Linked DNA regions of Homo sapiens. The protein of the gene in region 1 interacts with the protein of each later gene in a biochemical or structural test. Each region holds a gene or a part of one and is shown in the gene's direction. Other genes may lie near its edges.

Region 1 (3,751 bases):
CCTAAAGGCACTCAATATGGACGGCAAAGTCCCTGACCAAACCTGTCCTTGGCCCCTTTCCTAAAGTGCATTCCATATCATCACTGGCTTCTTGTTTTGCAGGCTTAAAACCTGGGAGTTCTCACCGGAAGACAAAAAAGCCTCTTCCCCCAACGCCTGAGGAGGACCAGGTATACAGGGAAACTGGGTGCTGCCACTGCTTAAATGGAAACTTATAGTCAAGCCCTAAGAACACACTAGAGTCTTAGAATTACCCTGGGACTTGGCAGTGTTAATTGGTATTCTTGCTAAGATGGGGGATTTGTTCTTCTAATTAGGATTTCCTCCTCGATGGAAAGATAGAAGGCTCTCAGCAACCATGTAATCCAATCACCTGTTTAGAACAAAACCTGATTTTTTTAATGTAAAGTTTTTGTTGTTGTTTTGTTTTTGCTTTTGTTTTTGTTTTGAGACGGAGTCTCGCTCTGTCGCCCAGGTTCGAGTGTAATGGCATGATCTCGGCTCACTGCAACCTCCGCCTCCCAGATTCAAGTGATTCTCCTGTCTCAGCCTCCTGAGTAGCTGGGATTACAGGCATGCACCACCACGCCCAGCTAATTTTTGTATTTTTAGTAGAGATGGGGGTGTCACCATGTTGTTCAGGCTGGTCTCGAACCCGCCTCGGCCTCCTAAAGTGCTGGGATTACAGGCGTGAGCCACCGTGCCCAGCTGGAAAGTATTTTCAAACATACAGTAAAGTTAGAAGAATTTAACACTTAATACCAACATACTCAACACTTAGCACTAACACCACCTATCACTAACACTTCAGAAGTTTTTTTTTTTTTTTTGGTTCCTTCTTGAGGGCTAGAAAGCCCTTTCTCACATATTGTAAGTAAGTAGAGCAGGTATTATTATACTCATTTTACAAAGAAGGAAACCAAGGTTCTGAGCCACTTAGTAGATTCACGTACAAGTTTAGTGCCAAGCCGGTTTCCTGACCTTAGCTATAAATGGTTTTTGTCTAGTGAGCTTTAAAAATAGTAATGTTTGGGTCCCATTCCTGAGAGTTTGATTTTGATGTAATTGGTCTGTGAGGAAACTGACTAGGTATTGGAATTGGTTTTTTGTTTTTTGTGGGTTTTTTTTTGAGACAGTCTCACTCTGTCACCCAGGCTGGAGTGCAGTGGCGTGGTCTTGGCTCACTACAACCTCCGCCTCCTGGGGTCAAGTTATTCTCCTGCCTCAGCCTCCTGAGTAGCTGGGGCTATATGCACACACTACCATGCCCAGCTGATTTTTGCATTTTTAGTAGAGATGGGGTTTCGTCACGTTGGCCAGGCTGGTCTCGAACTCCTGGCCTCAACTGATCCGCCCGCCTTGGCCTCCGAAAGTACATTGGAATTTAAAAGTTCCATACATGGTCTTTATATGTGTGCAAGGCTGAGAACTCCTGCACTGGTGCTTAAAAATGGTTGTTGAATGACTGCTGAGTAATATTTTAGTATGCCTGATTTGGGTGTCTTGAGTAAGCCAGAGAGTTGGGAGAGAAGAGAAGAGTGCTTGGTATCTTGACAAACCCTCCTACCTTTTCTCCTAACTACATAGATCTTGAAAAAGCCACTACCGCCTGAGCCAGCAGCAGCACCAGTCTCCACAAGTGAGCTGAAAAAGGTTGTGGCCCTTTATGATTACATGCCAATGAATGCAAATGATCTACAGCTGCGGAAGGGTGATGAATATTTTATCTTGGAGGAAAGCAACTTACCATGGTGGAGAGCACGAGATAAAAATGGGTGAGTCCACACCAGCCCTTCCTGAGCCTGGTGCCTGCCCACTCCCTACACGCAAAAAGTGCTGCGGCATAATTCCCGTGATCAGCATCCTCATCAGAGACTGTTCTTCCCACACCAGACTGAACATGCTCTCCCTCCAAGTACTTCCCAGCGTGCAGCTCCCTATACATGGCCTCTGCCACATCTCTGAGCCTCTGTTGTTGGGCACATATAACCAATGCAACATGTGCATAAGCTCTGCACCTCACTGGCTCACTGCCTAACCATGCATCAGAGACATGATTGTCTTTGAGGGAGGTGCATGATACATATACCTCCATTTGAGATTTGTTCTGAGCTCAGGGACGTGGGCATATGAATCTGTCTCCTGGAGGCTGGGGAGGTGCTGGATGAACTGCCACATTGTTTCCTTCACAGGCAGGAAGGCTACATTCCTAGTAACTATGTCACTGAAGCAGAAGACTCCATAGAAATGTATGAGTAAGTATGTTTATGTCAGTCCACAATCTTCCAGGAGGAACTCTCTCTCTCTATATATATATATATTTATTTATTTATATATATTTTATATATATTTATATATATATATAACACACACAAGTGTATATATGTATACATATGTATACATACACTGGTGTATATATAGGTATATTATGTATACATACACAAGTGTGTATATATATATATACACTTTTTTCTACTTTCAACATATTTTTTATTTCAAGATATATATTAAAATTAGTACCATCTGAATCAAATGATGCCACCACCTCAAATTAGTGTATCTGTCTTACCTTTACCCCCCAAACACCCTCCATTTATGAGAGCTGGAGAGGTCACCATGCCCTCAAATCCAGAAGAATCACACTCAAAGAAAAAGGAGTTGACGACCTGATGAAAGAATTAAAATGTCAAACTGCTACTGTTGTCCTTTCCTCCCTAATCATGGAAGTGGATTGTTCTCAAGTGCCCTAGTCCCTGATCTCTTCCCTGCAACTCCCTGCTGCTTGCCTTTGCCTGCTACTCTCCATTTCCATGAATCTTCAATGCCAACCTGGGTTTGGGAAAGGGATACAGTGTGCTATGCACATGACAGATGCTCAGTAAATAGGGTTTGAGTGAGTTGACTGAATCACTGACATGGACAAGCCCTGGAGGGTGCTGTAACCTCCAATCTGCTTATGACCAGGAGCCACTCAAGCAGCACTCTCCCTTCACAGGTGGTATTCCAAACACATGACTCGGAGTCAGGCTGAGCAACTGCTAAAGCAAGAGGTAAGTGTGGAACCACTAGCACACAGCATTCTCCTTGCATAAGTGAGGATCTTGAACTGAGGGCCTGTTCTGCCCCCTACCTTTGGGCAAGGCAGTGTCAAAGCTGCCATCGTCTGGGATCCCAATTACACCATTTTTTTTGTTTTTGTTTTTCTGAGACGGACTCTCGGTCTGTCACCCAGGCTGGAGTGCAGTGGCGTGATCTGGGCTCACTGCAACCTCCGCCTTCTGGGTTCAAGTAATTCTCCTACCTCAGCCTCCCAAGTAGCTGGGATTACAGGCACATGCCACCACGCCCGACTAATTTTTGTATTTTTAGCAGAGACGGGGTTTCACCATGTTGGCCAGGCTGGTCTCGAACTCCTGACCTCAGGTGATCCGCCCACCTCGGCCTCCCAAAATGCTGGGATTACAGGCATGAGCCACCATGCCCGGCCTGCACCTTTTAATATTAAAAGCAATGAGGCTGTAGCTCAAGCGTGGAACTTGGCAGTAAAATCAGGGGTTGTTCTATTTTCTCTCTCAAGTTTGGGCAGGTGGGATGCAGGTGTGAGCACCACTTCCTCCTACAGACAGCTTCTTTTTCGTTGTTTCAGGGGAAAGAAGGAGGTTTCATTGTCAGAGACTCCAGCAAAGCTGGCAAATATACAGTGTCTGTGTTTGCTAAATCCACAGGGTGAGTGCTACTATTCCAAGGCCCT
Region 2 (3,751 bases), on another chromosome or scaffold:
GGTGGGTGGATCACCTGAGGTCAGGAGTTTGAGACCAGCCTGGCCAACACGGCAAAACCCTGTCTCTACTAAAAATATAAAAAATTAGCCAGGCGTGGTGGCAGGCGCCTATAATCCCAGCTACTCAGGAGGCTGAGACAGCAGAATCACTTGAACCCGGGAGGCGGAAGTTGCAGTGAGCCGAGATCGCACCACTGCACTCCAGCCTGGACAACAGAGCAAGACTCATCTCAAAAAGAAAAAAGAAAACCCATTCAAAGTTGTAGTTCAGGCTATTTCACAATTTTTAGTTATTTAATAATTGGGTGGCTCTGTGAGTGTGTGATGATCTCCTAAGTACCCCCAGGAAGAGAAAAACAGTGAAAGGCAGCCCTTCAGGGGGCATCATGTCTTCTTGAAATGATCTACCATGGAAAGAAAGAACCTTGAACAGGACTGAGATAAAACAGTCTCAGACAGCATGATTATTAGAGATGTTGACCGTGTTTTCTACAAATTCTGATTTTAAATGTATATTTTCAGGAAAAATAAATTCATCACCCAATGTTAATACTACTGCATCAGGTGTTGAAGACCTTAACATCATTCAGGTGACAATTCCAGGTATGAGTTCTCTGCTTCCATCAGAGTTTTTGGGGGTCTCTTCAGGGCCTCTTGGACTTTCCCAACTAGAGAGGTTTGCTCAGCTCATCCGGGGACTCGGATACATTACACGTTGCCTGGTGCTCCTCCCAGACTCCTACAGCAGTTGCCTTCCAAATACAGTTGCTCTCCAAACAGCAACGGCAAGTTTTGGCACTTGGCATGAGCTAAATCCTGTTAACCACCCAAATGGCTAGTCTGTTCCTTAAAAAAAGTCTATATGAGACCGGGCACGGTGGCTCACGCCTGTAATCCCAGCACTTTGGGAGGCTGAGGCAGGAGGATCGCTTGAGGTCAGGAATTCAAAACCAGCCTAGCCAACGTGGTGAAACCCTGACTCTACTAAACATACAAGAAAAATTAGCCAGGCCTGGTTGTGTGTGGCTGTAATCCCAGCTACTTGGGAGGCTGAGGCAGGAGAAGTGCTTGAACCCGGGAGGTGGAGGTCGCAGTGAGCCGAGATGGGGCCAGTGCACTCCAGCCTTGGTGACAGAGCCATACTCCATCTGGGAAAAAAAAAAAATCTATATAAAACAGCAGGTAAAGGTCTTTATAACAAGAATAAATTTGTAGCATTTTTAGTTAGGCATTATTTTAAACAATTTCAAATTTAATTAGCTCAAAGTGCTCAAATACTTAAATCATTAAAAAATGGAAAATGCTTGAAAACATTACACAGAGCTCCTAAAAATTGGGATTAAAAGTGCATCATTGAGCAGCGGCTTGTACCTGTAGTCTCGGCTACTTGGGAGGCTTAGGCAGGAGGATCGCTTGAGCCCAAGAGTTCAAGGCCAGTCTGGGCAACATCGTGAGATACCATCTCTTTACCATAAAAAAAAAAAAAAGCAGTATTTAAGTTTTGGGTTTTCTCTGAACTGTTTCAGATGATGATAATGAAAGACTCTCGAAAGTTGAAAAAGCTAGACAGCTAAGAGAACAAGTGAATGACCTCTTTAGTCGGAAATTTGGTAAGTTTTGCATTTGCAAAGTACAGTTGCTATAAGCAAAGAGATTTGTTTTAATAAGATCTTTTCAGCAGATGATGGTTGGATGGTTGTAATCCTATATAAAAGGAGTTAAAATTTAAAAGTGAGTTGTTTGTGCTAAATTTATTTAATAAGATACCATTAGTGTTACACTATTGATTGTCAGTATGAAAGTTAATGAATTTAAGGTTCACCATCTGGCAGTGTGGCTCACACTTGTAATCCCAGCACTTTGGGAGCCCGAGGCAGGTGGATCAGTTGAGGCCAGGAGTTCGAGACCAGCCTGGCCAACATAGTGAAACCCTGTCTCTACTAAAAAATTCAAAAAATTAGCCGGGTATGGTGGTGCACACCTGTAATCCCAGCTACTCAGGAGGCTGTGGCACGAGAATTGCTTGAACCTGGGAGGCAGAGATTGCAGTGAGCTGAGATCAAGCCACCACACTCCAACCTGGGTGACAGAGCAAGACTCTGTCTCAAAAAAAAAAAAAATTTAAGGTTCATATTTAAATTTGTTTGAAGTGTACAAAGACCTTAGTTAACAGCAGAGACAGTCTTTAAAATAAATGTTGATCTTGTGCTTTTGACAGGCTGTTTAAGGCGGTGGGTTAATCTGTGCTGTTGTGCTGTTTGTCTCACTGTCCCTGTAGGTGAAGCTATTGGTATGGGTTTTCCTGTGAAAGTTCCCTACAGGAAAATCACAATTAACCCTGGCTGTGTGGTAGTTGATGGCATGCCCCCGGGGGTGTCCTTCAAAGCCCCCAGCTACCTGGAAATCAGCTCCATGAGAAGGATCTTAGACTCTGCCGAGTTTATCAAATTCACGGTCATTAGGTAAGTGAGAGTTTCCTGCTTAGTCACAGGAGCGAATCTGGAGCTCATGAGGCTGACTCTTCTAAAATGCAGCCACAGGTAGTCATCGAATCCGGCTTCCTATGCTGTGCAATCAACAAATCAAAATAACTTGTGTCATCATTAGAATGTCAGATGTGCTTCTACGAACTAAGCTGACTCTTTTAATTCTTTGGCAAAGGGTTGGCAAACTAGGACTGTTTGCCAAATTCAGGCTGCCTCCTATTTTTAGAGTCTTCCTGAAACACAGCTACACCCGTATTATCCATGGCTGCTTTCCTGTCACAGTGAGTAAGTAGCTGGGACTGAGAAGGCATGGCCTCCAAAGTCTAAAATATTTACTCTCTAGCACTTTGTAGAAAAACCTTAGCTAGGCACAGTGGCTAACGCCTGTAATCCCAGCATTTTGGGAGGCCAAGGCAGGCAGATCACCTGAGGTCAGGAGTTCCAGACCAGCCTGGCCAACATGGTGAAATCCCATCTCTACAAAAATAAAACAGTTAGCTGGGCATGATGGCGGGTGCCTGTAATCCCAGCTACTCGGGAGGCTGAGGCAGGATAGTCGCTTGAACCCAGGAGGTGGAGGTTGCAATGAGCCAAGATCATGCCACTGCACTCCAGCCTGGACGACAGAGTGAGACTCCATCACAAGAAAAAAAGAACTTTGTCAACCTCTGTCTTAGGGCGCCTTGTCACAGGCTTCGGGTCAGACGGATTCAACCTTGCATCAGCCATTTGTTAGCCAGGTCACTCTGTTCTTTGTCTGTAAATGAGATTGATCGTTGTTCCCACTGAGAGTGTCAGCTCCTTCCCGTAGAGCAGGCATGATGATTGTACTCACCTCTGACACCATTGTGAGTGCCACATTCCTTCCCACGTCCTTGTCACTGTAAGAGATGCCCACCTGAGCACCAACCCCAGGTTATCTTCCCCTTTGTCTTCCAGCCCCCCAGAAACAGCTACGACTCAACCTACCCAATCATTTCATCATCAGATTGCCACTGTCTCTAGTTCAGGTCTCTTGGAACTGGCACTCAGAAATCTCATAATAAATCCTCTTGAGGCTTCTCATACACTCGTCTTCTTCCAATCTTCTTTCCCTCAAAATCTCATATTTTGGTTCCACTTCACCCACCGTCATTCTCCATATCACTCCCAGGAGTTAGGCAAAAAGCCCCTTCCGTTCTTCCGTATGTTAAACTTAGAATCACTCTGTTCCCTGCTCTGCGTTTCTATTTTTTGTTTTTCCTCCATTTACTAGTAGCTTAACA

The links.
Region 2: the proteins of BTK (region 1) and GTF2I form a complex in vitro, tested with the Homo sapiens proteins (4 studies listed by BioGRID and IntAct, with this or other methods).

What each region holds. Positions count from the first base shown.
Region 1 is NC_000023.11:101,358,592-101,362,342, reverse strand, and holds part of BTK (tyrosine-protein kinase BTK), read left to right. Parts: intron 1-102; coding exon 103-170; intron 171-1,587; coding exon 1,588-1,775; intron 1,776-2,192; coding exon 2,193-2,255; intron 2,256-2,995; coding exon 2,996-3,050; intron 3,051-3,646; coding exon 3,647-3,726; intron 3,727-3,751. UniProt on the Homo sapiens protein: Non-receptor tyrosine kinase indispensable for B lymphocyte development, differentiation and signaling. Binding of antigen to the B-cell antigen receptor (BCR) triggers signaling that ultimately leads to B-cell activation.
Region 2 is NC_000007.14:74,751,568-74,755,318, forward strand, and holds part of GTF2I (general transcription factor II-I), read left to right. Parts: intron 1-522; coding exon 523-603; intron 604-1,526; coding exon 1,527-1,610; intron 1,611-2,278; coding exon 2,279-2,462; intron 2,463-3,751. UniProt on the Homo sapiens protein: Interacts with the basal transcription machinery by coordinating the formation of a multiprotein complex at the C-FOS promoter, and linking specific signal responsive activator complexes.